Linked DNA regions of Homo sapiens: region 1 is linked to region 2. Evidence: fine-mapped expression QTL. A gene starts in region 2. The other region holds a variant in brackets. All regions are shown on one strand. Distances are from middle to middle.

What was found.
Region 1: its variant is fine-mapped to the expression of ETV5 in monocytes after interferon gamma (Fairfax 2014, PIP 0.95).

The regions. Positions count from the first base shown.
Region 1 is chr3:186,044,301-186,060,390 of GRCh38, forward strand. It overlaps ETV5 (ETS variant transcription factor 5), which reads right to left. Exons shown (of 13, transcript NM_004454.3): 10 at 13,123-13,191; 11 at 12,775-12,944; 12 at 7,730-7,831; 13 at 2,014-4,560. The coding sequence ends at 4,339. Among named protein-coding and RNA genes, the nearest start is that of ETV5-AS1, 27 kb to the right of the region's middle. The variant T/C (reference allele first, on the strand shown) is at 8,665.
Region 2 is chr3:186,099,489-186,115,578 of GRCh38, forward strand. It overlaps ETV5 (ETS variant transcription factor 5), which reads right to left and starts at 9,601. Exons shown (of 13, transcript NM_004454.3): 1 at 9,452-9,601; 2 at 6,336-6,454; 3 at 6,137-6,224; 4 at 5,961-6,008; 5 at 5,817-5,867. The coding sequence starts at 6,380. RefSeq lists enhancers at 8,324-8,383, 9,142-10,120 and silencers at 9,154-9,253, 9,284-9,913.

The sequences.
Region 1 (16,090 bases), 55 kb before region 2:
CTCAATGAACCTAGGAGGTTAGGCCAGATGGTCCCCTGAGACCATTTAGTTAAACCCAATCAACCACTGACCTGGGGCCAGAACCCAAATGTCTAGGCTCCAAGGGACTAGTCCTCTTTCCACAGTAGCCACTGTGAAAATTCCAAAAAAGAAATTAATTTTGGAGGCTAACAGCCATGGTATTTTCAGACTCAATTTCAACAGTATTACCATTTCAGAAAGCCTGCCAAAAAGATAATGGAGATGAAAAAGTGCTGTGTAAAGTGCTACCCAAAGGTTACCTGAGGTTCACTGCCAAGGTCAACAAACCCAGGCTTGGGTGTAGAGCCAGCTCTTAAAGTTGGAGGAGCTAAGGCTGGTCATTCAAAGGGCCCCTTCTGAATGGGACACCAGTGTACTTGCCGGGATCAAAAGGACATAGCCGCTCGCCTGGTACCACCCTCACACCCTCCCCCTATTTTAAGTACAATACACTTATGTTGAATAGAATACTTACACTATGTATTTGTACTAAACAATACTTACACTATGCATTTGTATTAAACTGATGATCTTCTGGACTTTTTTCCTTTCTCTTGTATTTCAGAGGCCACACATTGAGTAGCAGCCACCTGCACCGCTGGGCAATGAACGGTCTCTCCAAAGTTTCCAACCGTCTGGGTACATTAGTGTTTTTCTTCCACATTAGTTTACATTTGTCCCAGCTGCATTAGAATTTAGATTCTGCACATACTCTGGCTCTCAAAACCACATTCTTCTGCGCTCACACTACCTCTTTGTCATCTAACAACTGAATACGCATTGTTTCCCTGGCTTGGCTCATGAAAGGGGACCCTGATGCAGAGTAAACTTCCCATTCTCTGAGCTTCCTTATCCTAGCGCCCAACACTAGAAGGGCGGCAGTGTTTGGTGACCTCCTGCGTTAGGTTAACGATCTGGGTCCGGGCCCAGGCTGGATAACGAGCCCGTGAATAATGGGGAGCGGATTGTTAAAGCCTTATCATGGTGAAGCTGAGAGGCAGAGACGGCTTTTTCCTGCGCACCCTTGCCCCTTCTCCCCAAGCATCTTTTCTTAATCTGTCGAAGCTAATGGGGTTTATGTGGCAGACATTCATTCCTCACAAGCTCCAATTCAAGAGGCGGTGCACTCATTCAGTCTCGATGTTTCTACACTTAGAGGCTTGTAAAACAGTAAAGAAAGATAGCAGATAAACTGACAGAAAGCCTTCTGTTCTAGGCTTGAAAAAAGGCTCTACTTTATTTCTCCACTGTAATAGGAGTCTTGAGAAGGCCAAATTAGAGGTGCAGAAAAAGGGTGAAATAAGAGCACTAGAAACCGTAATAACCGTAATAACACCGCAATACAACCCGGCGAACTTTATTTCCTTCCACGTATTTCCCGAGTGATACATATTCACGAGAAAGAGACAAACTTGGAGGAGGAGGTTTTTACTGCTGCACGGCCAGAAAAAAACATAGTGGGCAAAACCTTCCTGAGCTTTTTTCGTTATTTATCAACCATTAATTGATTTTTCACTTGTCAAGAGCAAAACTTATTGGGGAAAAATTAGAAAATGAATGGTCTTAAGTTCTTACTGGTTTTCAAAGTATCCACATAAGGGGCTGAGGATAATTCTGGGACTCGAAAGTCCTAGACTGCTTTGTAATCTTTTCACACAACCCAAAGCGAAACATGGGCTACACTTAAAAAAAGAGTTACTAAGAATTGGTGGCTTGGTGGGCTCAAGGGGATGAGGTGATCTCAGCTCACCATTGGCTGGGAAGAGGATCTCTCGACTTTCCACCTCTTTGGATTAAATTTTTAGCTGGAGTTTAAGAGGAGCTGTGCACATCTATTTCCAGGTAACAGAGTTCCCTAACTACCCTCGATGCCACTGTCCATTGGTAAGGCTAAATTGTTGAGAGGGCTAGGGCGGGGGCGGAGAGAAAGCCAGGGGGCTTTTGCCTGCTTTAAAATTAGACCAATGAGGGCAAGAAAGAGGCAGGTTCGGGTGCTTGGTAAACGAAAAGCAAACTTCTTTATTGTACACAGTACAGAATATAACGCAGCTTGGCAGGATGCATACGGCCCTGCGCAGGGGAAAGTATTTCAAATCAGCTGGCAGGTTCAAGCCTTTCTGCACTGTAGACTTTCCACACTCTGGAAAAGAAGCAAACAAACAAACCCCAAAGAACCCCCGAAAAAAACAAAAACCATCCGGGAGGTGCATGAGTCCAATGGGAATGCAACCGTGATGCCGCTGTCCTATGCCCAGTGACAGCACAGGTCACGTAAGTTACAGCAGGGGAGGGGTAGCTCAAGCTACAGAGGATTATTGTCATATTGCTAAGACAGCATAAATCCATTCAAAAGAAAAAAAAAAAAAATCCAAACCAGGGTAAGTAAAGAAAGGAAAACCAAATCTATACAGCATTTACAACAAATAAATCTCTAGCCAGCTGGGGGTAAAATATGCATCTATGTATAGACTATGTGTAGGTTAAGAAAGCTATAAATATGGTTTAGAAAGAGTCCTTTGATTAGAGTACAATGCTAATTAAGGCCCAATCTACAGGTTTACCACCTTTGTGGGCTAATTAGCTTCCAATAGAGGAGAATCTCATGTTTCCATAGCTATAAAGTGCACCCCTTATCCCTGCGAACCTCTTCACAAATGTGCTGTTGGTCATAAGGGGGACAGTTTGAGACTATGGAGTGCTCCATGAATAGAAAAGCAGTTCAAAGCACGTGTCTCACACTCACGGAGTCAGCACTGCCTCCTTCACATACGAGGAACAGTGTAGTCATTCTTAATGTACTAAGTGTCACGGGGAGCACAGAATTCTACCAGCAGAGCAGGCAGCAAGGTACCACCAGTAACTTTTCCTCTACTTTGAGCTCAACTTTCACATAGCTTTAGCTTGGTTGTTTAAAACTTTTCCAATATAATACAGCAATGAGAATAATTTCTTTTTAAAAAAAGGCAGGAATCTAGAATGCTAGCACTGTTGCTTACCTGTCAGTATCACACGTAAGTCTCAAACCCTACTGAATCACACAGGTAGGGTTTAAAGTCCAAGATTTAAAGAAAAAGGAAAACAAAACAAACTGATGAAATGGAAATTGTCATCAGTCATGCCCAGGGAAGAATCCCAAGGGTTTTCACCAGGTGACCAGGTTTCCAAAGGACATGACACATGTTATATACATATGCTTTCCAGAGAGGGCATGTTAGTGAACACGGGGAACTATACATAGAGAATCTAAGCTTGTGTCCAGGCTGCCCTGCACACTTCAAAAATGTACAACTCAGGTGCAAATGTTCCATCAGGTTGTCTGGTGCAGAAAGCACAAAGCAGGCAACAAGGCGGGCTTTCACATGGCCAAGGGGAAGCCTCAGCAAAGCCCCTCTCAAGCTGCAGTGTCTTCATAAGTTGGCACGGCCCTGGCTAAAGGACACAGTGCACAGTTACCAAAAGGTTTGTTTTTGTTTTTTGTTTTTCGTTTTTTTGCTTTAAATACCAAAACTACAAAAATCAGTTTATAAACTGTTTTTCCAAAACAACCACCAAAACAAAACAATCCCCCAAATCAGGGCAAAACAAAATACTGTCAAAAGTGTTAATCGCCCTTCTCCTAAAATAAAAGTCATCCACACTCAGCCACGTGATTGGGAAGAGAAAGGGGGCTTGCTCTACTTGGCGACCACATGGCCGGGTGGTTCCCAAGAGTAGCCATGGTTTATGATTTTGAGAACCACGGAGTGGGGAACAGCTGTTCTGACTGCCCCCCTTTTTCTAGACAAGGGGTAATATTTCAGATTCAGCTAGAAGAGCTTTCCAATGTTTAAGATGTATTTTTAACCCTTAATGGTTTGAGCCTCCCCAACTTAGCCTACTTACTTTTCTATGGGTTTGTGATTTTTCAACAAATTGTGCAAATCAGAGCCCTTCTATGTAAAGGCATTTAGTAGTCCATGATCGATGCAGATTGTCACATACTATGTCCCGTTTTGCGGGTACTAACCTGAACAAGATATTGCTTTGCATGTATTGTCCATGGTAAGGAGACTCCATTTTGATCTCTTCCCAGAAACCTCATCAGAATCAAGAGTTGAGGCACTGGCCTTTTGGTGGTTTTCTGCCCCTCCCTGTTCCCACTCCCCAGCCAATGTATCTGTCTTTAAGGGTGCCAATCCAGAGACAGCTTGGGTTCTCCAGATAATACTCAAAGGGCAAGCTTTAGGAACAACCAAAAACACAAACAAAACCACTGCCCTTGTTTGCCTGAATGGGAACTGCTAGCTCTAGGGTTTGGCCACTCCGCCACTCAGAAACTTAGTAAGCAAAGCCTTCGGCATAGGGGAGGCTGCTGCAGCGGTCCATGTCCAGGAGGTAAGCGGGGCTGTCTTCAAAGTGGGTCAGCGGCAGGGTGTCCTCCTCGCTGAGGTGGCACTCGGACTCTGCCTTCAGGAACGGACGCTGGTTATCCGGGAAAGCCATGGAGAAGAGGGCATCTGGGTCACAGACAAATTTGTAGACGTATCGCTCTCCAGCCACCTGCGGGAGAACACACACCTTACAGGGCCCAGTTGGAACAGGGCATGGGATCAGGGGAAGAGAACGAGGTATTCCTAAGTCACAAAGCCAGGGACCAAAGGAGCAGCCGATTACCCCAATCACTCAGACTTATTTTGAGAACTCCTGGGAACCTATTATCTGCCAAGTGTTTTACTGACACTACAGCAGTTAAAAAAGAAGATATCTGAATTTCGAATTCACACTAGATGGACTCTTAAAAGAAAATCTTCACTTTCTGTCTTCCAGTGACAGCTTTGAAAGCATGGTTATGCTGAGCCTGGAGTCTGGTGTTCCAAAAAGGTTTAAGGACTGACAGGTGCAAGGCAGAAGCCTGACCACATTTTTAGTCACTTCCAGAGTTTACAGTCTTCACAGTATGGCCTTGTTATTTAGAAAGGTTAGAAATCTGATGAGAGCGAGCCTGCGCAGAAGCCTTAAGTATGTTCCAAAGCTGAAAAGAATTGCTTTTGGCTTACCTGCAGCTTTAAATGACTCACCGCATGGCTCTGCTACACTGAGGGAACCGCTAACTACCTTTCTATGGGTTTTCTGCATTATAATATTAGAACCAGAAGGTCTTGGTTGTTCAAGGACCTCATGGTATGTGGCTGATGAGACATCTGCGTCAATGGGATCACCTTCTCTCTGCTGGTTGTTCAGCAATAGTACAAGAGGCACCTAATACCGAAAATCAAACCCAATAATCGGCTTCTGTCTGGAGACGCAGAGGGGGAAGGGAAGGCAGCCAAATTTACTGATAAGATAAACATTTTAGATTTAAAAATGCAAACTGTTGAGTTTAATCCTGCCCTTCAGTCATTCTGCTGTGATTCTAAAATCTTTTTTTAATTGAACAAGTATGGCTCTGCTTCCACATCTCTACCAATCAACCACCTCTAGTTAGTGTTGTACGCTGGTTTTACCTTAAAGCCCAACCCCAAAAATTAGTTTGTGTGGGAGAGTGAGGCAGGAGAGCACAGTGGAAATAATCCTAGATCAGAAGCTGGGAGTTGCACGGCTTCCAGTCCTGGTTTAGTCACTAATGAGTCTTAACCTCTGTGAACCTCAATTTTCCCTTCAAAAATGGAGGGCATGGGACTACAGCTTTTCTAAGTCTCTCTACACACCGACGGGCTATCATTCACCTTTTAATGAGCTCTCATGTACTCGTGAGTCATGTAACAAATAAAATAATAACCCCTTCCTTACACTGGATGGCACATTATTATTTCTGAAATATTTTCAAATATATTACCCTGTGGGATTAAAGCAAGAATTATTATCTATATTTTTATTAGAAATAGAGGCTTTGGGAGATTAGGTGACTTTCCTCAAATCATACAGCTAACAAATTGAAGTGTTAGGATCTGAGCCCACGAAGCCTCATTCCTGGGCCTTCCTGTACTCTTTGCCTACTTATTCTCAGAAATAAAGTTCTCTTCTACTCCCTTAGAAAACACAGAAGCTAGTCATAAGGACAGCTCATTTCCATTGGTTCAAGTTACTGTGTCCTGGGTTGCATCTCCCCATGCTGGATGTGGAGTTGGGAACAGCAAAGGAATAATGGCTCTCCCACCTGAACTTAGGATTTGGCCTGATGATATCAACTCTAAGGAGGATAGAGGACAATGGGGAGTGGCTGCTGATGGGTATGGCGTTTCTTTTTGGGGTGATAAAATGTTCTGAAATTAATTGTGGTAATGGTTGTACAGCTCTGTGAAACCACTGGACCGTATACTTTAAAAAAAGGAGAGGTAAGGTAGGGGACCACCTATCCTACAGCATTTAACTCTGTATCAAGCACTGAAGTTAAACCTCAATTCCTAACCCAAAGGAGCTTACACTCCAGTGGGGGGTAGTAACAAGAAAGGAGTTAAGACACAGCGAGAAGAGCAGTGGTAGGAACAAGTACTGGTGCCATCAGAAGCAGCAAAGGGGACCACCTAACCCAATCTGAAATGGAAAGGTGACAGAAAACAAGGAGGGGCTGGCCAGGTACTGAGAGCATTAGGAATGTTCTAGGTCTTAAGTAGGATGACAGTTTAATAGGTGTCTTCCATTTTATGGTATGCTTGATAATGTACATGCATGTAACATGTATTCTTTGGCAAACAAATACTACATTACATTAAAAGGTGGCTATGCTAGTGAAAGCCGTCAAGTTTGAGTGAAGAAACGAGAGTTAGGTGGTGACCAGACTGGGAACAGCCTCAGAGCCTGTATGACGCACTAGCAAGTCTAGAGTTTATCCAGAAAATCACAATGAGCTGTTGAGTATTTTTTAAGGTGGCGAGGAGAATATGGGGTCACATTACCACCCGCCTATGAGAAAGATGAATCTGGCTTCTTGTAGACAAGTTCTCAGCAGTTTTGCCCATATGCTTCTGCCACGTTCATCTTATTGGCTACTGCCAGGTAGACTGGCTCAATGTGTAAATGCTAGTATCTGGGCAACAGTACATTACGAATTTGGTAGCTAAGAAAGACTTGCCATTCCCATCTTCTACTTATCCATGGGATGTTAAGACTGTGGCCCCTTGCTACCTATCCCACGAAGAATTTTGTACTGATTTCTTCAAAATATGCTTCATCCTCTATTCCACAAAGAGCAACCTGCTACCAGGTGACTCTGCTGCCATTCTACAAACGTTGGGTTTTTAACTTGAGTTCCAGTTTCTGTAAGTCTGAAAGAAAAATCAGATGCTCTTATTCCTCTAACACTTCTGAGCATATCAAACTAACAGATTTGGAGGTCTAGGTGTTTTAATAACTAAAGACTTCAATCAAGCTGTTGAAGTAGAGACCTTCAAGTTGATTCCCTGTAGTCCTTTTTGGATACAACAGTTGGCCTAAGTTTCTGGAAATTTCTATATATAGAAGCAGTTTTGGGAAAGCAGAGAAGCCTAATTTTCTATTGTGTGTTCTGCATGCAACTTCTAGTTTCCACATAACCAACAGCATCAAATGTACTCTATATCTCATTTGATTCTTGTCTCAAGTTTGTCTTCTCAAGATTGTTTCCTACCACAGAATCACTTAGGGGGCTAAAATTTCCTCGTAGCGACGATCACCAGTCTCACTACAGAAGCCCTGGACTTTTTCCTTAAAAGAGACCAGAGTGGGCTAAGGGTCTTGTATAATGGCTCACCTTCTGCATGATGCCCTTTTCATAGTAATAGCGGAGAGAGCGGCTCAGCTTGTCATAGTTCATGGCTGGCCGGTTCTTCTGGATGCCCCAGCGCCGAGCAACCTGAAGAGACAGGAAAGTGAAGAGCAATGGAAACGCATTCCCTGGGCCCCATGTTCTCTCCCAATCCCAGCAGAGCCAGTTCTGTAACCTGACTGCTTTGGTCAATGATCTGCTACTCTGACCTGGAAGGGAAGGCATTTAACTCCCTCAAGACCAAACATTCAACAAAGGCGATGATTCAGTGACAACTACTAGGAGGTGAGACCTAGAGATGGAAGAATCCTAGCACTTTAAGATTGCAGAGGGCTTGGCTAACATCCCAGAGGATGCAGGCCCTCTACTATTTCTCCACGTATGAATTATTGACCAATACCCATAGACCATTAACGTGTTGCCATTAAGTGCTATGGTTTCTGTAGCAGTCAATAAGGAATAATTAGAATGGTCATTCCTGAAACATTAGAAACACACTAGTGAGTTGCTAATGGGCCAGCAGAGCAAAAGTTCAATTCTAATAAGATTGGAGGGGGGCTGGGAGATGTTTACTTATTGCAGCTCATGGACTAAGGGGGAATCAGATCATTTCAGCCTGCTGCCATCCAATCCCATGCTCCCAGCAGACTTGCAGAATGGACATGAAAGCATGTAGCACCATTATCCACTTAATGAAAAATTAACAGGGCTTTCCAAACAGTTCTGAAATGCATTATATCCAACCCAGTCCACCTGAGGCACACTGATAGGGCAATATAATTGGAGCTCTGGGCAAAGCAGCCTTCTAGCAGGAAAACTTCCTAGTAGAGTTTACCCAATTATCACGGCAGCCAAGCAATTTCTGTTCTCAAGTATATCAGCTTCCAAAATCCTACTTATGAGAATGACTGTCAAGGTAG[T/C]AGAATAACCCTGGAAATGTGAGTTTTACTCAGAGGTTTTCAAATGTATGCAAACCAGGGGTCAGGGGTCACGTTTGGAGCATTTTAGGTCAGTTTTGGAAACTTAAAAAAAAAAAACAAACTATATTCCTTCGATTATTTTATTTTTATTTTCTGAGATGGAGTCTCACTCTGTTGCCCAGGCTGGAGTGCAGTGGCACGATCATGGCTCACTGCAACCTCTGCCTCCCAGGCTCAAGCGATTCTCCTGCCTCAGTCTCCTGAGCAGCTGGGATTACAGGTGTCCATTGTCATGCCCAACTAATTTTTGTATTTTTAGTAGAGATAGGGTTTCACCATGTTGGCCAGGCTGGTCACAAACTCCTGACCTCAAGTGACCCACCTGCCTCAGCCTCCCGAAGTGCTGGGATTATAGGCATGAGCCACTGCACCCGGCCCCTTCGATATTTTAAAAGCCAAATGTTAAACATGGAGTAGGAATCAGAGAGAAAACAGCATTTCACATAAACCTTTTCCTTAAAATATCTAGGCAGAATGAAAGCAACATCTTCTAAATTCAGGATTCTAAAATGACCTTTCATAAAAGCCAAAAATGATCTGATAAGAATGCATCTCTCTTAATTACAATAATAGCAATGATTCTGCTCTGCCTTGCAAGAAACCCTGTGAAAGTCCAATTTCCGTTCAGTTGCTTCATGTCCCCACAGCAGACACGATGTCCTGGGTCTCCTCTTTTCTCCATATGGTACCCACTCTACTCTACCTTTGAAACAGCCCAAAAGGCAAAATTAACCAAAAATTACATCCTGGTTAGAGAAGATAAACATTTAAAACCAATAGAAATAATGGTAAGAAGAGACATCTGCTAACCTAATAATATACATCATTGTACCCTGTTCAAAGCAATGATGCCTTATAAAACTAATCTTTAATTGCTGTCTGCCACAAGTGACACAGGGAAATTTCAGAGAAGCCCAGCCTCATCATTTTACTATGTTAAGGGGTGGAAAACAATCCTTGAATATTCTTCAACTTCAGCGGCCACCTCTCAGCTGTCACTTGCATATGCAATTGCTTACTGGAGAAAGGTTTGGTATACGCACAGATTTCAAAGCAGCTCTGGTAGCCATAGTTACTGACTCATCCTCCCGGGCCAGAGCCCTGTGATTCTGTAGCCCTCACCACGGCTGTTCCTTCTACAGTAATGCATGAGGCGGCTCAGCTCCAGAGCAGCTGGGAATTAGGGCTGCCCCTCTTCTGGGACTGGGGAGGCAGGCAATAGCTTGTCATCAGATCTTTCTTCTCTCTCATTAGTTACTTTGGTAGCACGTATCTTGAGGACTGAGGCTGAAGGAGTTAACGGATCTACCTATTCCTTCTCCCCTTTAAAGAGAGAGCAGCCACAGCCCAGGGAGTGGCTCTTTCTAGCAGCCCATCCCTTCAAACCTCCCAGCAGCAGTTATCTGCCACATGTTCAACAAACAACCCTACCCCCCAAAATATTCATTAATGCAGATTCACAGTTAAAATGGCTCCAGATTAAAGCCGAGTCAGTCATAATTGAGAGGGTGCTAAGCTGGATGACTATCAAAAGACATTTGATTAGGGGGCCTGCCAAAACGCAGTTCTAAAACCACAATTTCCATGCACAGTGTAATGGATATTATGGATAATTACCCAGAGTGCACTACTCAGCCACACAGCTGCCTACAATTACGTCCCAACAGCTTCCTCCTCCGCTTCACCCTTCAAGCTCCCCCATGACGACTTCTTACAGCTTTTTCCAGAAGCTGGTATCTTCCTGACATTAACAAGAACAGGGCCCTCACAGGTATACAAGGAGGGGTGGGGGGAGCTCAGCAAATGTCACCTGTCCTGAGGCTAACGTGCACATGTGGCACCCAACTGATCCTGGGTGAAGAGAAAGGAACATTTGGAGCTTAGGGAAAGCTTGGGGACTTCAAGGTGGGGTGGAAAGCACCATTTCCTGAAGAAACAAAGCTGCCCGGTCAACCGAGGGAGGCTCAAGGACACCACAGGCTTCTCATATGACTTGGCTGCCTGGCATTTACGAGCATTCTGTATTAATATTAGTTTCTTTATTAAGTAAGAAAGCAGGGGCCCTTTGCCATCTGTTCATCATTCTCTATGCCACTGGTAGGAGTGCAGAAGATTCAATAACAGCTTTACGAAGGATCATAACCAGGTTTACCTGCAGCTGGACGGCCTGTGCTTAGGCCCGAGGCAGTGGCAATAAAATAATAAAAGCTCCTGTTTGTGAAACAAGATAAATCAATAAGGGCTGCCCACATGACAGAACTACTTTCAGAAAGCCTCAGTGAACCTAGGTGACATGCTTTTCTCAAACTTCACATAAACCAGGCCACGTTATTCAGAAAGCAGTGAGGAGAGGCATGGGTCGGCGTGGGGTGGATGGCTCTGCAGGGATGCTAGAAGCCTAAAACATGGCTCTATTTCTACATGGCCAGAAAAAAACACGTAGGCACTAAACTAACACAGTGGCACTCAACTCCAGCTCTGAAGGTAGACTGAACCGAATAGAAGCTGTTTAATTAGTCCATCTAGAGATGCTGACACATTTCCATTCTCGTGAGTGAATATAAAACAGGGAACACATAGGCACATCTTGTTTTCTAATTGCCTTGAATGAAGTCTGCCTTCTTCTCCTATCAATCAGGATTCTTCATAAATTTCTAATCCACACATTCTCCTCCTTTTCCCATTTGAATCTTTAGACCACTTTCTTGTTCCAAACCAAGTCCCCGGTTGCTACCTCCTCCTGTTAACCCCATGCCAGCGTATTTCTCTGGTGTGCTAAAGCGAGCCCTAGAGTTAACTGAACACTGAAAACAGCAATTCTCGTTCAAATGCTTTCTAAGAGTGTCTAAGAGTGTTGTTCCCAATTTAATTATACCCAACCCAAAGATGCCTTTTGATCTGCTGGTTTAATTTATATGCCTAAGAACATGCTACTAAAAGAAGCGTATGTCAGTTTTTTTGGGCAGTTATTTCTGTTCCATTTATAATCTCTCTAGATTCTAAATCAAACAGAAATTAAAAATCAACCCCTTTAGAATATGCTATACTGAGAGCCTGATTTAATTTACTTTGTTATGTGATATTCAGGAAAGGGATTCTAGGGTGTGTCTTCTCCACTGAAGAAACGGCACTGGTTCTGTCAACAGTGTATTTCTGTTCTGGGCACAAAAACAGTAACAGTGTTTTTTTCCTATTAAAATAACTGAGGTTTGTATCATCTCTCAACTACTCTATTGTGATGTCACATAACACACTTTCATTTTATTTTTTTGGACACAGGGTCTCGCTCTGTCACCCAGGCTCAATCGATCCTCCCTGCCTCAGTCTCCCAAGTATTTGGGACTATAGACACACACCACCATGCCTAGCTAATTTTTTATTATTTTTATTTTCTTTTATTTTTTGTAGAGATAAGGTTTTGCCATGTTACCCAGGCTGGTCTCAAAATCCTGGGGTCAAGCAATACACCTGCTTCAGCCTCCCAAAATGTTGGGATTACAGGTGTGAGCCACTGCACCCGGCCATAACACACCTTTGAAAAAAAAAATCTAAGCTCATTAAGATTGAGCCACCTCTGATAATTTTATTTCTCCAGGCTACAGCCATTTGAAATACACAGTGGGTAGTTGTATCCTGTAATATATTGTCAAAATGTCATACAGTATGTTCACGTAGACTCAGAGATAGACTATGGCCCACAGGGGCTAAGACCAAAACAAGTCTGTATCATTGAAACAGCACCTGAAAAAGACTTTCCAAGAGGGAGAGCATATCCTATTTGAATATAAGTCTTCATGATCTTGCCCCCTAAATTTTGCAGAAGTGTTACAAATACTTTTCATGTATTCTACACTGGAGAACTCTGCCTGTCCATGTATTAGAAACTGTCCCATTAATAGGAGGGATACAGCCAAGCCCACTGGCCAGGCCAGAATATGAATGAGAAGCAAGAGCAGACTTGACACAAAAAGCCTCAATGGAAATCTAAACAAAAAACATCATCAACAACAACAAATCAAAACCCGTCTGAGTCCAGCATCCAGTGCATACCTCTTCCGGTTCTATCAGCTTGAACTCCATGCCTCGACCTGTCCAGGCAATGAAGTGGGCATTGGCTGGGTCATCAAGAAGGGTGACCAGGAACTGCCACAGCTGAAGGGAACCTCGCCTCTGGTAAGGGGGCCCCTCTCGATACATGGTAGGCTCCTGTTTGACTTTGCCTGTTTGGGACAAGGACACATCACACAATAGCTTAGTCCTAAGTTTCTCAGGTGGTTGGGACAAAAAGGAGTTGTTCATGCTGATTTAATCACTGGACTTGGGAAGAGAGTCATGGCTGAGGTGTTCTGACACCTCCAAACCTCTACCTGGCAACAAACCTTGGATGGGGCTACTTACCTTCCAGTCTCTCAGGCACAACACAAGTGTCGTCAAAGTATAATCGGGGATCTTTTTCATATGAAAAACCTGAAAGAGAATTTAAAAGAAAGACTACGTTGCTTAACAAATTCTGTGTTGTACTAAAACTATGGATTTAAGGACTAGAGTGCAATCCTATCATTTCAGATCCTAAGTCCTACTGCTGTATCTATGGCAGACTGAATTTTCAGGGACTTCAAGAGGGCTTAGGCATTCCAATTCTGATGTAATCACCTGCGCCTCAGTCAGAGCAGCATCAATTCCTGCTTTTACAGCTAAGACTGCAGGGAAGTGCTGAGTCACCAGTACGTTCCTTTGCATTTTGCTTCTGAGGTCTGCATGGATCAATGTTGCTCTGACTAAGCCTTTACAGCTGGAAACACATCTCTATTTCAGTTGGCCTAGCTGGATGGATTTGGTTGATCTGTACACAGACCTGCCATTTTCCTTTTAGCTAAAATTAATTTCAACCTTTCCTACTAACTCATCCAAGCTACTCACATACCTCGTTCAATTACGAAAGAGCTTGAAGGGTAAAGAATGTTGCCAAAATGAATAAAGACTTGGGCCTGTAGAGGATTTCGAAAGCAGTATTGGGGGTATTATTACCAAACAGTGGAGAGGATCTGAAAAGACTTTCTAGCAATGAAACAAATTCACTGTATAGATGACAAAACAGAGGTCAAGGAGGAACTGGCCCAACAACACATGCAAACGAAATAAAAGAAGGCAAGGCAAAAAGTTAAAGGGCTCAAGAAGGAAGGATGGCCTGACAGTCTTCATCCACAAACCCCTAATATACACTCAGTGCTAACCACCATGTCGCTAGGCACCTTGTCAAGATTGGTGGTTCAAATCAAAGCCAGGTAACAGATAACTTGGATGGGGTCACATCCCTCCTTGTAGTTCAGCCTGTCTCAAGGTGTAAGGTCTCCAGTGCATACTCCTTTACCAGCACACGTCTTAGGAGAATGCCCCAGGGCTCCTGTCTGATAAGCAGTGCTTCCCTGTGCTCCGTTTTCCTGTTAGTTCACCTGGCTCATACTACAGGTCTGTGTGTGTTGGATAATGCAGTGGGGGCAGGCAGGTGAAAAGGCTCTGCAATGAAGGACTTCCATTAGATCTGAGAAGGATTCACTGCGACTTAAAAAATCCACGAGGCTGGGCACGGTGGTGAGCAATTATAATTCCATGAGCAATTATAAGGTTTAAGGGTTCTGAATGAGGATAGCCATAATAACAAGTGCTATGTGGCTTATGGAGGAGTAGGAAATAAGTGATTTTAGATTGGTTTGTTGAAGACAAATAGCCTGTAATCTCAGCGCTTTGGGAGGCCAAGATGGGTGGATCATCTGAGGTCAGGAGTTCGAGACCAGCCTGGCCAACATGGTGAAACCATCTCTACTAAAAATACAAAAAATTAGCCGGGCATAGTGGTGGGCGCCTGTAATCCCAGCTACCTGGGAGGCTGAGGCAGGAGAATTGCTTGAATCCAGGAGGCGGAGGTTACAGTGGGTGGAGATCACGCTATTGTACTCCTGCCTGTGCAACAGAGAGAGGCTCTGTCTCAAAAAAAAAAAAATAAAATAAAAATAAAAAATAAAAAAAAAGAAAGGAAAAATCCGTGAGTAAAGGTGCCAAGGTATAATTTCACCATTCTTTGTTTCTTCAGTCAACCCAGATCAAGTAGCTTCTTGGCAGGAGCAGCACCATTTTTAAGAGGCCTGGGACTGAAGAAACTCTGCACAACTGAGACTGCTTTGAGGTTTATATTATTCATTTTTGTTTTCTCAGCCCTAAGCATTAGTTCTCTGTTGCTTAACGACATCAAAGTCTATTTTATTGTCATTTATATATTATTTAATCCACTAAGTATTTATGCCAGGCGTTGTGCTAGAAGGGAGTAGGTAGCCAGGCGAATGTAGACTTGGTCCTTGTTCTCATGGAGCCTGCATCTCAACTGGGGGCGACAGACAATAAAGGAGAAAAAGAAACGAGAGGTGGCATAGTACTGATGGACTCCAGTCAGCTGTGCGATCTTGAATAAATTAATCTCTGTGCTCCAGTGTCCTCATTGCAGCAGATAAAAATTCCTACCTTATGGTGTTGTTATAAGAGTTTAATTTAGTATCATTCAACTGATCTATTTCTCTATCTTCATACCAGAGTGCCAAGAGTAGCTCCTGGTACATAAGTGTGTAATAAATGGTAGTTAAAAAAATAAACATAGTCATTGTACAACATTGTGGTAAGTGCTATTAAGAAATTAACTGAATAATGTCAGAGCTTGATCTTATATCCTCCACCAAAGATTCTAAATTCCTTGAGGATAAGGATCGTATCTTGGTATCTTAGTGTCCTCATGGCACCTTACACATAAGTACTAAATAAATATTTGAATAAATGAGAAGTTTTATAGTCTTCATTAAAAAATATTTAAGAATATAATGCTAACTTTTAAGTCAGGGATTCAATGACTCCTGATAAATTTATTTTCCAATTTGGCACTAAACTGACTTTTATGACCAACTGGTATACTCTGTATTACCAACAAGACTTTCATAATCCACTATGCTTCAAACATTTTGCCTTGCCTGCCAGGAAGCTACATATTTCCCGATCTTCCATATGTATTTTGATATTCCGGTGATGTTTTAATGGTCTTATTATAAAGTCATTACAAGCGAACTACTTCAAGTTTACGTATCTGTCAAACTTGCCATGTTATTTTCAGAGTTCTTCTCCTCTAAGGTAAGAAAAATACATTCACAGTATGTAGAAAAAAACACAACCACCTACATCTAGAAGAAATTCTCAGTTTGGTTTTCAAAGCTAATCAGATGAAGGTCTGCCTATAAGAAGTATCACTGCGGTGTATCTTGTGGTTTCTAGTCATCGCCACATGTGGTCCTCTACACCATCTGGAAGATACTATTGGTTTAAGTGA
Region 2 (16,090 bases):
CTGCCTCAAGGGCAGCCGTATGCCCGAGAGGGGGCTGTCAGCCTCTGAGGCTGGATGTACTTTACCACCACTAAAACCCAAGAAATGTGTGGAGGGAACAGTTTCTCGGCAGAGAATCACACACCCCACCCCACCACCAAGAAACATTTTTTTCTAGGGCTGAAATTAAAACAATGATACTACTAGATGGTAGAAATGGGAGACAGTACACATTTTCGGCTTCATTATGCTACCCATGCCTTACTCCTGTAAAACTGAAGAATGCTGAAAGAGGAGGGGATAAATGGTAATTTCTTCATGGATGCCAGGATTTTGTTACTTCTGGCACCTACACAAGTGATCTTGACACAGATGTAACTCCCCGTCCCAAATCTTTCTCACCAAATACAAAGGACTGGTAAGCCTACTGGGTTTTGTTAGATGACTAACAGCGCAGAGACACAGAAGGGTAAGAGAAAAATTCAGTTTTAAATAAGCCTAACTGAATTAAAGGTAGACGAAAGCAGATTTTGTAAAACAGATGGCTCCTTTAAGTAAATGCGTACTGTAGGTCTTGGGTCCTTCAGAATACTGAGTCTAAGAATCTTTGAGGCTATCAAAACAGGAAGGATTTCAAATCATTTAGCACCCTCCCAGCAGTAAGGTACTGGGCTAACTAACAAACACTTTGAAAGTAACACTGTAAAACCTGGAGTCAAAGAATCTCTCCTCCATGTTTTCCTCACGCTTTCATCAGCATTCTTTTCTACCTTCAGAACTACTGATTCCTGAAAAGTATAAACCAATGGCCTTGTTTTCCCTCAAACCTCTTATTTTTAAAGTGCCCACTGTTTTCTTTCTTACCTTGCCAAACAAAAAGACTTTAGGATGATCCTTTTGAATAGAGGTGGCCCAAGCAAGAAAACGTGGTGTTTTGCTACACCACACCTAGGACCAAAGACCAAAATGATGTACCCTCTCCAAAGGAAAGGCACTGCCTCTACTGTACTAAACTCACACATTAATAAAGAAATCCAGCTGAATAATCTCATCGTGAAACAGGATTAAGATCAATGTGTTTTAGGCTCAAGGGCTGTCATAACAGTTAATCCTATTTCCCCAGCCGTCTATTGCAATGTATTTATGAAAAGTCGATTTTATCAGTTAATTAGCTGGTCCTTAGGAAATTACTTGTACTTCCTCCAGTTGTTCCATTCTCTTTGAAACACAGATCTAAAAAGAACACTTCAAGGGGAAAATGGGGTCATTTGGATCTTAAAACAATTCTCTAGGCTGTATTTGGTATGGAGGCCATGACTTTGAAATAAGATTTTTATCATGCTCTCTACTCAGCATAAAATATCTTAGTTATTCAAGATGCTAACAGGTATATATTTATAATATCATAACTGAAATTAATAAGTGAGATTAAAAATCAGACCCAAAATGTATATTTAAAAAACTGCTATTTATATATGCTAAAATCTAGTAACACACTCTTTAAGTACCCAGTCAGTTCAGAAAAATGAATGGAACACATCACCTTACCCCGACTTTGAAACACTCTTGAGTTCCAATCTTATCCATGGCATAGTTAGTTCTATGAAAATGTGTAGTAAATATGTACATACATCTATGCACTGACCCAGATTCCCTGGTTTAGCCGCTCTATGTGTTAAGGTACACATTTAGCTACATACACAGTTACATAGATATATACACATGCACAAACACTTTTTCATATATAGGAAATATGTACACAGTTTTATCTGTATACACACGAAAGGTGTCTTCTAGGAAACATGGCAGTTTTCTTTTGTTTTCGTTTTTTAGAGATAGGGTCTTGCTCTGGTACCTAGGCTGGGGTACAGTGGTGTGATCACTACTCGCTTCAACTGTAACCTCGAACTCCTAGGCTCAAGAGATCCTCCCGACTTGGCCTCCTAAAGCACTGAGGTTACAGGTGTGAGCCTAAATATGTCAGTTTTTTATAATTTTTTTCTTTTATAATTACTCTCTGTCTTCCAAATCCTAGATGGAAAAACTCAAAGCATGAAGGTATTGAGTAACTTTCTCAGGATCATAGAAGGAAGAGAAGTGAGTGCTGAATTGGACAGCCAGAGGCCTCCCAGATGCTTTCCTGAACACCATCTCCAGGTATCTGAAATAATGGAGACCCTGAATACACTTGAATATGCCACTACTCCCTGGCTCTGCAGCTTTGTGAGAGCTTCTTTAAGAATATTATTTTATACATCTTCCTCTTACTTCACCTAAACCTTCCCATCTGCCCCCACTACTGGTCAGTCTCTTCAGCTATTTGGGAATAGCTGTGAAAGGAGGGGGCTGGGCAAGCTTGTCTCTACAAAGGACATCCAACTCAAGCAATCTGAGATCTTCAGAGTTACTTCTTAGGACCAAGGGACAATGAGGTCCACTGGTAGAATCCCTATGATCTATAGATTTCTATTCCCTTGAATTTGACCTTTCAGAGTCTCCATGCTTTACTGATATCTATATGTGTGAGGTAGAGGTGAAATCTGTACAGCTAGAAGTAAGCTGGGCATTTCTATAAGATATAAAAGCAATGGTTTCATTCACTCAAATCAGACTTAAGGATGTATCCCTATGGGCAGGAAACCCAATTCTAAGAAACTTACAAAATATAATCTCTTTAGAAGTTGAACTTTTAGTGTTTAGAGAAAAAAAAAAGCCATAATCTTTAAAACTGACATTCCAAAATAAAAATATTACCTACATTTCTTAGTATTTCTCTTTCTTTCATGTATACAATAAATTTACACATATACAATGGAAAATTATCAAATCATTATTAATAGGAAAGTGTATTACCAGTGGCCACTGGTAAGAATATTTGTTACAGGCCGGGCACAGTGGCTCACGCCTGTAATTCCAGCACTCTGGGAGGCTAAGGTGGGCGGATCACCTGAGGTCAGGAGTTCAAGACCAGCCTGGCAAACATGGTGAAGCCCCGTCTCTACTAAAAATACAAAAATTAGCCAGGCATGGTGGCAGGTGCCTGTAATCCCAGCTACTCGGGAGGCTTAGGCAGGAGAATTGCTCGAACCTGGGACGTGGACATCCCAGTAAGTGGGCCGAGATTGCGCCATTGCACTCTGGCCTGGGTGACGAGCAAAACTCTCTCTCCAAAAAAAAAAAAAAAAAAAAAGGTTTGCTTTCCCCTGGCAAATCTAAGTTTGGCTTATATTCATTGGTTAAGTGAGTCAAACCAACTCATAAGGTTTCATTAAATTTGAATGAGTTTTCTTCCCTCCCCTGAAAAAAATCACGAGCTCTTCCAGAAAATGACTGGAGTGAAGCTGGTCCTGAACTCGAGGCTGTGGAAAGCGCTCATGGAAAAGTAAGTGCATGCAGCCGGCTGTGGGCTCTGCCAGCTCCTCCTCATGCTTCTGGCTGTTGGTCTGAACTGCAGGCAAACAAACTTGCTTTTGCAAGAATGAATGGCTCAAAGATGCACCACCCACATTTGTGTTCTTGCCTTGCTTCTTAAGCAAGTTATTCTATTTGAATCTATCCCTTCTTGAAGCTCTACCTCAAGAAATAAAGTCAGAGGGAAAGAATCATTAGAAGACCTTTTCTAGGCTAGTCAACCATCTCTTTTATCCTTAAAAGACAGAAAGGCTCAACCTTAGGCAGTTAAAACAAAAAGTAAGCAAAGTAAAAAAAACATCATACTTGGTAAGCAGAAACATCTCCCAAATTACCTCCACTTGAGGTATGGAATTTTAATTAAAGAACTTAGCACATTCTATTTGCTGAGCAGAAATTATTTCTAAAGAGCCAAAACACATTTATTGATTTCTTCACTTTAGCCTATTCCCACAGATAAATATCTCTCCAAATATAAATCCTGCTTGCTGACAAAGAACATACCCTTGCTTCAGCACATGCAATCAATTTGAATGCAGCCATCTCATCTCCCTTTTAACTCTTTTGGGTTACAGAGAAACAAACAAAAGTGTCATAAAAGCATTTCAAAGAACCTCTGCCAAGAAAGCCACCTCCCAAACAGACTGCAGTTTATGCTGCTCTGAGCAAGAACTGGAAAGGCTGGGCCAAATTGTCAACACAGAACAAAGTTGGATTACAAACCCTGTCTTTCATCTTGCAAACACACACACACACACACACACACACACACACACACACACACACACACACTTGGATTATCTTTATTTAGTCTTTCAGTGGCAAGCTTCCCAATCACTCGAAAGCAATCAAAGGGCAATAATTAACATGCATTTACTCTCCCATAGAACACATCCACAGCAAGCTGTGACAAAGCTAAGGTAACCATGCATGTGTGTGTTCCAGTTTATTCCCTTTTACAGTTTCATGGCATTGTGCCTTGGACATGAGGCCTATCATTAAGGAATGTTTAGCTGTTACCTCTGCTCTTACATTTAAAAGATTTGGAATACCCAACTTTTTACTTAGAGAGAGACCTAAGATACTCTCTCTCCAGTGGCATTTTTACACACATACACCCACCTACCCAGAGATAAAACAAAGCTGGGAAGAATCTGTTGGTCCAAAATGAGAAATTGAGTCCTTGCATGGCTCAGGTGCTTGCTATTATAAACTATGACTAAGAGACATGAATTTCTCTATGATGCAACTCTCAAGAGAGGCAGCATTTTCTCCAGGCCTCTCTTAAACCTGCTCATTCGCCAGTGACTAATGCTCTCTAGAGCAGCCCTGTGCTGCTCAAATTTCATCAGCCGGCTTTGTCCTTCATAACTCTGCCTAGACCATAAAAGCTCCCAAACCTGTTGAGGACAGCCCCAAAAGATCAGTGCAAAGTAACCATGCCCCTGCCAGTGTTGAAAGCCATCTTTTGAGCTTCCCACTGCATTTTCTCTCTAGTAATGAGCACTTAGTGGCCATTTTAAGAAAAAGTTTCTCTTCTCTGAAGAGAAAAGCCACAGCAACTACACGAAAAGTAAGAGTAAATCAGGCCACTCTGTGACCACCCCTTGTCAGCTTAGGGGTAGAGACAAAATTGACAACATGTTGGATGAAGCCAAAGTTAACTGGAGTTTTCCATTAACTATTTTCTGCACCTTTAAGAAAAAGAGAAATATCAGGTTCATGATTCACATCAAGGACTTAATTTATAAAACAAACCCCAAAAAAGCCATAAAACAATGTGTGATTAATAGATGCTTGGCCTAACACCAAATATATTTTGTCAGTTAATTTATAATTTTGAGCTTAAAGCTTTGCAATATTCTTTTTTTTTTTTTTTTTGAGATGGAGTCTTGCTCTGTTGCCCAGGCTGGAGTGCAGTGATGCGATCTCAGCTCACTGCAACCTCCGCCTTCTGGATTTAAGTGATTCTCCTGCCTCAGCCTCCTGAGTAGCTTGGATTACAGGCGCCCACCACCACACCTGGCTAATTTTTGTATTTTTAGTAGAGACGGGGTTTCACCATATTGGCCAGGCTGGTCTTGAATGCCTGACCTCAAGTGATCCACCTGCCTCAGCCTCCCAAAGCCCTGGGATTATAGGTGTGAGCCACTGTGCCCAGTCAGCTTTACAATATTCTTAAGGTAAAAAGAAATTTAGGATAAAATTATGTTCAGTAAATCTTACCTGCAATACAGTAGAAATACTTTAGAAATAATTTTATTATGAAATAAAAGTTTTCAGGGTTAATTCTGAATTATTAGAAGAAACTAAATGCATACTACTGTCTAAATCTGGCCATAGCTGAAAAAAGCATATTCTAGACATGGATGATCTAAGACCAAACAATTTCAGAACAAATGTGCCATCACCAGAAAGGTACTTACGGTTATCAGACTGAAAATCTGGGACAAACTGTTCATCATCAGGAACTTGTGCTGGAAAATAGATTTTTATTTTAGACCTTTAAGTTTTATTAAAAAGCACAGTAAAATGTTTTATATGGAAAATAGGACATCCATGAAACTTGCCTTCAGCTAACCAAGCCTCTTGAAGTTGACTGAGATCCTGAAATAGCTCTGAAATTGAAAAAGAAGACCCCAGAATGAGGATATTTCTTTCGCTAGGGAGAAGACAGGGAAGAATCTACACGCTACTGTCACTGGGAGCAGGGAAGCCACAACATAATCAGGGAAAGCTTTACTACCTTCAGAATCGTGAGCCAGATCTGTGTCCAAAAACTTCCTCTTTCTGTCAATCACAGGCCGCCCTCTGCATTCCTCAGATCGAGATTTCTGAAAGAGGCCAACAGAAAGTGAAGGCTCAAGTGTAGTAAAGAGGTCCACAGGGGGAAGACTCATATTGGAGAGGGAGGACAAAACAAACCAAAAGCCACATAAACTTACCCCTGGGACCATAAAAGGGACTTGCTGATCATAAAACCCGTCCATGGTGCTTTCAGCGTCTCTAATACCACTTTGAGAGGTTTCAGCATTGAGTAATTTCTGGGGGAAAAGGGATCCTCCTGTAATATGAATTTGGGAGATTTTAACTAAGAGGGGGGAAAAAAAGAAATGAAACAATTTTAGACTGCCTTTTTTTTAGGGCCTGTGCAAAATTATTACCCTTCTGTGAAGTACTTAAAACCTACTCAAGGTGCAAGCTTTACACACCAATGCCGGGCTTGATTAATGGTATCAGAGGTACAGGATGTACTCCGTGCCAAATCCATTTACCCAGTCATCATTTTTTCTTTCTTATTTAAATCATTAAAATTACAGATTTGCTACTGTCTGTTCTCTACCAAAACAAAAATAAATAAATAAAATAAAATAAAAGGGTGATTTCAAGATTCTCTCATATACTCCAGGGCATTTGTAGTAGGGTTTTTAAAAAAGAGATAATTTAATTTTTGACAGTACAGTGTCAGGAAGCAGAGAAACTGGGTTTAAGTATTCCAAATTATTGGCAATTAAAGATCTGACATACATGGTGTTTCCAAAAGCATTTTGTAGGTCACTGTTAAAACACTATATATAGTTCCTGGAATAAATTGATCAGAGGTATACTTATCTTCACACACAACTCTTTATTTAAAAGAGGACTAAACAGATATAGCATCTGTAATGTCACAAATATCTCCCTGGTTACTTACAGAGATATTTGTGACATCTCCAACTTCTAAAAGAGTAAAATGTCTATGAAAAGTAATGGATTAAAAAAACTAATTCCATTGCATGTGGTACAATGCATCTCTACCAAAGGTCTTTTAAAACTTAGGCTGTTTCATATAGCGGAATCATTTTTTTCTAGACATACCCCCCCACCCCCAAATGAAACTCATTTCAGGACGGGTAAGTGTGTGAGTCTGGGGAAAAAGGGTGGGGTTAGAAGGGAGAAAACTTCTCCTAACGTGAGTGGAATAAAGTAACAATTTCAGGGAGGTACCATCTTCCTAAACACTTTTATTCTTCAAATAAAAACACCGTTAAGTCAACAAAAGGTGGAAAAACATTAATTTCACTCACTCCAGCTCTAAGCAATTCAAAATGCTTAAAGGTCAACTTCTTTTGTTTGACATATACACAATTTTAAACAGGAAACTTTTCCCCCGGTGAGCAATTCCATCCAATTTGTTTTTCACACTGTGTGTAGCATATCAAATTTTTCATAAGTGGGCAGGATACAAGGACACCCTTCACAGCCAGCATCCTCCGCAGCACTTTGGCCCAAGGAATCAGATATTTTCAAAGTCAAAGGAAAGAGAGGAGCAAAATAGCACACAGTTCATAACTTCCTAGAAAAACACTCGCGCCAGCCTGCCTGCGTGCCCCGTCCAAACACCACAAGAAATGTTCAGAATAACGCCTCTCTCAAATGCCACCAAACCGTATACAAAATCTGAGAAACCTCAGCAGTGAGTTGAGGGGCATGAAAGAGAGAGTGCTCTGTCGCTTAGGAAAATCTGTCAGATTAAATCATGGCCTAAGACATTTTGTGAATGTGTTAGGAGGAAGGGGACAACCAGTAGAAGACGGGAGGGGGAGATATTTTTCAGTCTCATGATGAAATACTTCACCCGGAAGAGCAAAAAAAATTCTAAAAAATTAAAAGAAATAAACTGCCATAAACGAACGGAAAAGAGGCATTCCAGGGTTAGAAAAATTGTATTCCAAGTATAATTTTTTTAAAAGCCTGAAGGAAAGGCTCGAGTTCATCCAGGAGTTTAAACCACTTCCTTTGCCCCCCCACCACCCGCGCCCCGGGCGCCCCCAGGAAAACTTTAGCACAGCGCAGCGGCGCGATCCAGGCCCCTCCCCTGTGGCGCGCAGCGGGCCCGGTTTTATGAATGGGAGAGCGAGCCGCGGCCGCCACATCAGGTAGAGGCTGTAACTGGATCTCTAGCGCTGGGCCCCATTCACAAAACAAGACACACTTCCACCCAATTCTCAGCCTTCCCCATTCATGAAAACTCCTTCAGCTGCGCCCCCGCCCCCATTTCCAACGCACGCCCAGCCTCCGACGCAGGCCCCTCACCCCAGCGTTTTAGGAAGAAAGCTCAATGCTTCATTCACAAAAAGGGAAGAAAAAAAAAAAAGCCGCAGGGAGCAGCGAGCCAACGAAAGAAACCCGCTTCATTCATAAAGTCACCCACATTCATAAAAACGAGGTGCGGCGCCCGGCGCTACCAACCGCTTCCAATCCCCCCACCCCCAACATCTCTCCCTGGCACCCCCTCGTCGACCAGGAGTTCGGTTCCCCCCCGAGTTTTCTCCACCCTCTGAAAATGCGGCCGGAACCCTAATCCGCTGCGAGGCTGCAGCATCTTTCGGTGCTGTCCCCTCCACACCCGTGTTATCCCCACCATCCCCAGGCCGCTGTTCCGGTGCGCCCCGATTTTCTCGAGTCGCCGCACAGCCGGACGCCCTCAGCCTGCTGGGTGGGAGCAGGGCGACTGGATGTCCACTTTCCACCACCTGAAACTTGCAAGGCCTGCGTAAGTTCCTGGTCGACCCCCGCCCCCGCAGGCTGCACTTGCCTGTGTCATTTACCCCCTCCCGGTGCTCTGGGGGGCAGCGCCTCTCAGACATTCCCCTCAAACTGCTTCCCGCCCCCTCCTCCCAACTGCGGAGCTCCGCCAAGCGTCTCTTCTCGCGAGCCTCCAAGTCCCCTCGGGGCTCTCGAATCTCCAGAGACTGTGAAAGCCTCGCAACTCCGCGATCCCCCATCCACTCGGGAGCCCCCGCACTCGCGCTCCGGGGCGCCTCCCCCACGACGTGTGGAAAGCCGCTCTCCCCGCGCTCCGGAACCGTTAGCCGCACCCGCCCGACGCCTCCCAGGAACCAAACCGGACCGGGCCGCGGGGGGAGGGGGCGGTCAACCCGGGGGGGGTCACCCCAGCTACTGCACCCCGACTTTGAAGATTCTGAATCAGCCCGTGAACTCTAGCCGGCTGGGCCTGTCGGACCAGTGGCCGGACGCCCCTTCCGATCTCCCCCCTGCCCCCGCAAAGCCCCCTCACCTGAGGCGGCCTCTCTCCTCCCCTTGCAGCGGCCCCGGCGGCGCAGGCGCGCTCACGCACGCGCGCAGCGGGCCTGGGCGCCTGGGCGAAAGGCTGGGCCGAACCGCTCCGAAGACGGTGAACCGCTCCGCGCACCAGCGGCTGGACTCTGCGCCGCAGCTGCCAACCAGGCTGGAGCGCTGGCCCGGCCCCCCGCGGCTCGCTGCTCCGCCCGCCGCCATTGGCCCGCGGCCCTAGCCCAGCCTTGTTCCCATTGGCCAGAGGCCGTTCCCGCGGCTGTCCATCACCTCTTGTTTACCCTGTCTGCGGGCAAATCCAACCAAGCCGCCCCATCAACTCCGGCCCCCATTGGCCAGCGGTGCATCTCTCTCCACCCCCTCAGGGGTCTGTTTTACATAATTTATGCACCGGGGGCCATTGGCCAATCAGCACAGGCTTGTTTATATAATGAATGTAAGGACGTTTTTCATTCATAAAAAACGCGACCTGAGGGGGAAGCTTAGCTGAGTCAGTGAAGCACTTAAAGGGGCCGAGGCCAGGAGGAGCCGCCGTTACTTCCCTTCTCGCCGCTCTCCCGACTTTTCACCGAGGCACGACTCTTCCCCCTTACCCACTCACCCCCACTTCTCCATCCAGCAAAGCCCCGACCAGAATTGGGTCTCTTGGCGCCAGACGTTCGCAGCTGCAGCACCAAGCAAAGTTATCATTTTAGAATTCAGGGGAGAGGAATTCGTCATTCCACACAAACTCGCTGACCGACCTGGGCGTTTAGCCCACAGAAACACAGAAAACGGAAACCGAGCCCTCTAATCTTAGTTACCTTTAAGAGAGGCCTTAATTTCTTTTAACCAGGTTTCCAGTGGGAAGAATAAGCAGCATCTCCTTTTAAAATCTCAGCTCTCAAACAGATTTTTGTTACTATTTTGTACTGGCAAGGCCTAAGACCCAACCAAATCCCGTTTTCTCTTTAACTGCGGCTCGTAACCTCCGCCAGAGTGGGTTCTGTAGTCGAGGTGAGACAGGGTTCGGGCTCAAAGAAATCCTCTCCGGGGACAGCAGCAGCCAGTCCACCGACCTGGAAACCTAAATCCCTCCGAAACGGGCATGCAGACTCAGACTTTTTGCCTCCCTCCCCGGGCTGCTTGTTTTCCATTTAAGTATTGAATGCAAGATGGTGTATTTGCGAATTAGATCCCGTGCAGCTGGGAACGACGAGAAGCGGCTCTGCTTGCCAAACGATAGGGCACTAACTGCAATTGCTGAGATTCTTAACAGGGTGTTCCAGGAAACAAATAAACAAACAATCCTCTCCCCTCTCCGCCCCCTTACCCCCTCCTGTGAAGGCCGTGGGGCGGCTCTATCTTCTCTCCGGGGATGCTGGGGGCCTGTGACGGAGCTCTGTTCTCGTCCTGCTGGAGTGCCCTGCCATTCACGCCGCGTGCCAGCGGTGGGGAGGAAAGATGCTAAGTGACAGGAGAGAGCCCCTAGCAATGGGGGTCCCACGGTGGCCAACTCTGGGGCAGTTCCTGCCCCTGCCACCCCCACACTTAAGTCAAAGGTTCTTTCCTATCTCCACTTGTGTCTCTTAAACAGAGCGGACACTTGGTCTGTCGTTTATAGCCCTTGAAATGTTGGCGTGCCCCTAAGCAACCTGCAGCACCCGTGTTGAGTCCTGGGCTCAGCACTGACCAGGCACGCTGGAGCTGTTGACTTTGGAAGACTGAAATGGGCATGAGTTGATGGATGGAAAGTACTCTGAACATGTAACAAGCAGTTCCTTGAGATCTAGTTTCCTGGTAGAACATTTTGCTTCCGACTCCAGTTTTCCCTTAGTGCCCTTTTTCTTTCTCCAGGTGGTACCGTTTCTGTTTGGTGGCTGGAGATCTTACACTAGTACAGTTGTGCTCTGAGCTTATTGCTGACATTCCTGAGAGCTCTATCTCCCTAGCTAGATGAAGGGCCCAGGTAAGCTCCCAGATCCTCCTCCTCCCCAATTTTGTCTACCCCCACTCCCGCTCCTCCCCATCCCATCCCATGACATCCTGCTCTCTAAACTCATTTTTCCAAAGGAGCTTTCTTACTCCTCTTCCCTTAAGTCTCTCAGGCCCCAGCCCTCCGGAAGGCTTACAGCCCACAGAGCCACATATCCTCACCATCTAAACCGTAACACATCAATCACACTTTATAACTTTGGCTACAGGAAAACAGTGCCGCACGCTTCACAGCAACTTCCTCACAGGGTTGGACCTGATGCCTGGAGTTTGGCTCTTGTGACCTTTGCCTCAAGCCAAGTCTCTCCATTCCACTTTGAAAAGAGAAGTAGGATAGTTCTGGGTTGAGTAGTAACAAATAGTGGCTCAGGTGGGGGCAGGGGAGGATTGGGCGATAGATTTTTTTTCAAAAATGCTTGTCTTGAACACGCGATCATGTGCAGGGGATTACACCAGAATAATTGCCAATTAATTATTGCGATTATTTAGTTATCCAGTAAACATGTATTTTGTACCAAATATTCAGCCAGACTTCGTGCTAGGCAAAAAAGTTGCAGAGATGAATAAGACCCAGTCTTTGCGTTGGAGGAGCCCACAGTCTGCTGTGTAACTTCAGTATCTGAAGTTTACTCAGCACTTTATATATGACTTGTTCATGCCATATATAATTCTTCACAGATTATCTCATTTAATCCTCATAATAATAGTACCAAAGTGGTCAGGCTATTAATGTCTCCATTCTATAATATATAGTTGAGAAACTGAGACACAGAGATTAAGTAGTTTGCCAATGGTCACAGAGCTTGAAAGTCAGTTGCTGAACTTGGATAGGAGCCAAGGTGGTCACATCCCAGAGCCCATATATGGGAGACCTAGCATCTGCCTCTCTTGTTCAGCGACTACCGGGAAACATCATTTCAACCCAGAGTGGTAAAGGACAGAGCTGGCCAAAGTCAAAGGAGGCAGATTTTAGCTCCAAATAGGGTTAGGAAGGACTCTGGGATGTTTGGAGTGGTCCAGCAAAGGAAGATTGTATCTGGCCCTGAGTCTTCCATCACAGGAGGCATTTATGCAGAAAGATTTAGGGATAGGGTAGAGGGACTAATGCATTTTCCAGGATAGAAGAACTCTGAGGATTGTTCCATCTCTCAGAGTCTCTGATTCTGGGAATTTGGAGGTTTGTGCTGGACAAGGGGTACAGCTCTTGGCACAGCCATCTTGGCTGCAGCATTAAAAGTCAGAGTACAGCCTGCGATGACCTGAGCCAGCTCCTGGGCCCAGGGTGGGCTCCTCATTTTTAAATATTTACTGATATCTTCTCTCCACTCTTCTTCCTTCTTCTCTTTATGATTTACCTCCCCGGCTCCTCTTCTTTTGTTATCTTTGCCTTTATAAGAGTTAAAGGTAGTATTTAGAAGTTCTTTGTCTATTACGTTGAGGCTTCCCTCCTAGGAACATTACTTACATGGGAGGTTTTGTCGAACAAGCATGTGTTCTAATTATCATTCCCTCTCCTCCAGGAGAGAAACAGGATTGGAAAAGAAAACAAAAAGAGAGACCAGTCCTCTGGCACATTCATCTAATGTCAATCTAGCCTTTGTCCTCTGGCAGTAGCAAAACTCAATCACAGCACGATAACTAGACCCTTGTTCTTTAAACTCAATTTGCAGTGTGTCTAGAGGGGAACAGTGTAGAAGAATAGAAAAGAAAGTACCTTGCCCCAAGCCTGAGAACTGTTACCCTTTAGAGAACTGCTTTTAGAATTTTCCCCTAAAATGCCAAAAGCAAGTTACCGTATAAGGCAGGCAACCCTGTCTTGAGCTGATCACCAAAATGATCGTGGGAAATATGGAAGCATCATGATCCTGGTTTCTCATACTGGGAAAATCCCTCCTCTTTCTCTGTTAGAAATGCCGGGGTGAGTGTAGACCTGCCTAGGGTTTGGGATGTGGGCTACAGTGCTCCTGGAGTCCTTTCCTATTCTTGTATGGGGGGAAGGAAGGGATTTGAGGAAAGGGTAAAAAAGGTACTGAAATGTTGGCCACGCGTGGTGACTCACACCTGTAATCCCAGCACTTTGGGAGGCCCAAGTAGGTGGATCACCTGAGGTCAGGATTTCAAGACCAGCCTGGCCAACATGGTGAAACCCCCGTCTCTACTAAAAATACAAAAATTGGCTGGGCGTGGTGGTGCATATCTGTAATCCCAGCTACTTGGAAGACTGAGGCAGAAGAATCGCTTGAACTTGGGAGATGGAGGTCGCAGTGAGCTGAGGTCATGCCACTGCACTCCAGCCTGGGAGACAGAGTGAGATTTCGTTTCAAAAAAAAAAAAAAAAGGTACTGAAATGTGTTTTTATTTAAGGGAGAGATAAAGAATCCTATCTTCCTTTCTAAAATTCAGAAATAAAGGCCCTAAAAACTTAAGGGAGAAAAGAACATCTGTTAGCTTCAATGTCTCTTTAAAAAATAGGGGGCATATTGTTTTTAGGGTTCCTTCCAGCCGGGGAATAGTAAAAGCTGACATTTACTGAGTACTTAATATGAGCCAGACACTTTGCTAAACACTCCACATGACTTGGCACAGTTAGTCCCAACAACAGCCCTCTGAGGGAGGTACTATTATCATTATCTCCACTTTTCATAGATGAGAAAGCTTAGGTACAGAAAGGTTCAATCTATTGCTCCAGGCCACATAGCTAGCACATAGTAAAAAAGGGAGTGTGCCCAAGCAACAGAGCCTGCTCCCCTAGGATCTGCCCAGGAGCCACTCTGCTGCCCTGTGGAAGCTGTGTGTGCTTAATGACAGCGGCCAGCACTGCAAGAACACTTCCCTGTGCTAGACTCTGTTTAGGGGCTTTGCTTATATTAACCCACTTGATCATCCTAATAACCCTGTGATACAGATATCATTATTCTCCCCGTTTTATAGATGAGGAAAGTGAGACAGAGAGGTTAGGTAACTTGCCCAAGGTCACACAGCTAGTAAGAGTTGGAGTCAGGCACCTAATGTAGATCTTGAACAGAGTCCTTGCTCTTATTCACTCTGCTCTGTCGTCTTAGTTCCTGCAGTCTCTCACTTTGTCATCTTGCCCCTCACCTTGTTCTCAGGGCTTTGGCTGCTTGCTTGCCATGCCAGTGAGAGCTGCTGTGCTTCCTTAGGAACCTGCTTCAGCAACTCCAGCCAGACTTCTGAATTATTGTCCTGGGCTGGCAAGGATTTGTCTTCATGAAAGCCACTTTAGAAAAAGAAGGGAAATGATGTTTACTGAGCATCTCCAATATGCCAGGCTCTGTGCTAGACACTTTACATACTACAGTGTTTCATTTAATACGCCCAATCTCTCTTTAGAAGTGGTAATAATACCCAATTTGCTGATATGAAAACTGAGTTTCAAAGTGAGAGGTTTAAAACCATGTCTGAGTTTCCTCAGTTAGAAAGGAGCAAGTCAGATCTCTGACAGAACACAGAATGCATGTTCTTGAGCCTCTGATCCAGCCAGTCTGGGGGACCTTATTCCTCTCCTGGTTCTTGACTGAGCTCGAAGACATCCTTTCTCCTGTCTCCTGCTGACTTTCAATTCTTATGAAACAGCCACTATCAAGAAAACCTGGAAGAGCATGTCCTATTTAGATTTCTGATGGCTGACAGGTTTATTTCTTAAGCCCACAACTTTAAAAAGAAACAACTAGCCCGGCGTGTTGGCTCACGCCTGTAATCCCAGCACTTTGGAAGGCTGAGGCAGGCCGATCACTTGAGGTCAGGAGTTTGAGACCAGCCTGGCCAACATGGTGAAACCCCATCTCTACTAAAAATACAAAAATTGGCCAGACATGATGGCGTGTGCCTGTAATCCCAGCTACTCAGGAGGCTGAGGCAGGAGAATCACTTGAACCTGGGAGGCGGAGGTTGCAGTGAGCCGAGATCACACCACTGCACTCCAGCCTGGGAGACAGATCGAGACTCCATCTCAAAAAAAAAAAAAAAAAAGAAAGAAGATGGAAATCTTAGGAAACTTCCCATGGCTTCTCCTTGACTTCAAAACTGAGTCCAGCTCTGCAGCAGAATCTGCACAGCAGCCATGCGACCCTGCAATCTCTCCCAAGCCTCCTGAGTCCTTTCATCTCACCATGCAGGGAAGAGCTCCTAGAGCCAGACACACGCCTGCATCCTTCCCTACCCCTGAGAAATCTGGGGGACTGCCTGTCTCCCATGAAAGAGCCTCGGGCTACTGGACTTTTGGTGGATCCTGTGTTGGATCTTCCGAGTTTTCCTGCCCCCTTTTCAATGTCAGGTTGTTAATCAGAACATCACGATGCATTCAGCACATGCTTCTCTAGCCCCTCACATCTGTTGTAATTTTCTGACTCTGATCTGCCATAGGCGTGGAAACCAGCAAACCAAGTGTGTTTGCAATGGGCATAGAGAAAGAGCCCAGAGGTTCTGAGTAGCAGCAAAAGCATCCCCTCCAATGAGGAAGTGGACAAACTTGGATGTGTAGACTTGGCAAAATCTATTTTGACCGCTCAGAGTCCTCTTTTTGCTTCCTTTTATGCCCATGGTGGTGAGTTTTATGTGACCAGGGGTTAACCCCTTCTGTGCCCTCCTTGGACTTCAGCTCCTACAGCAGGAGCAGGCTGACTCAGAA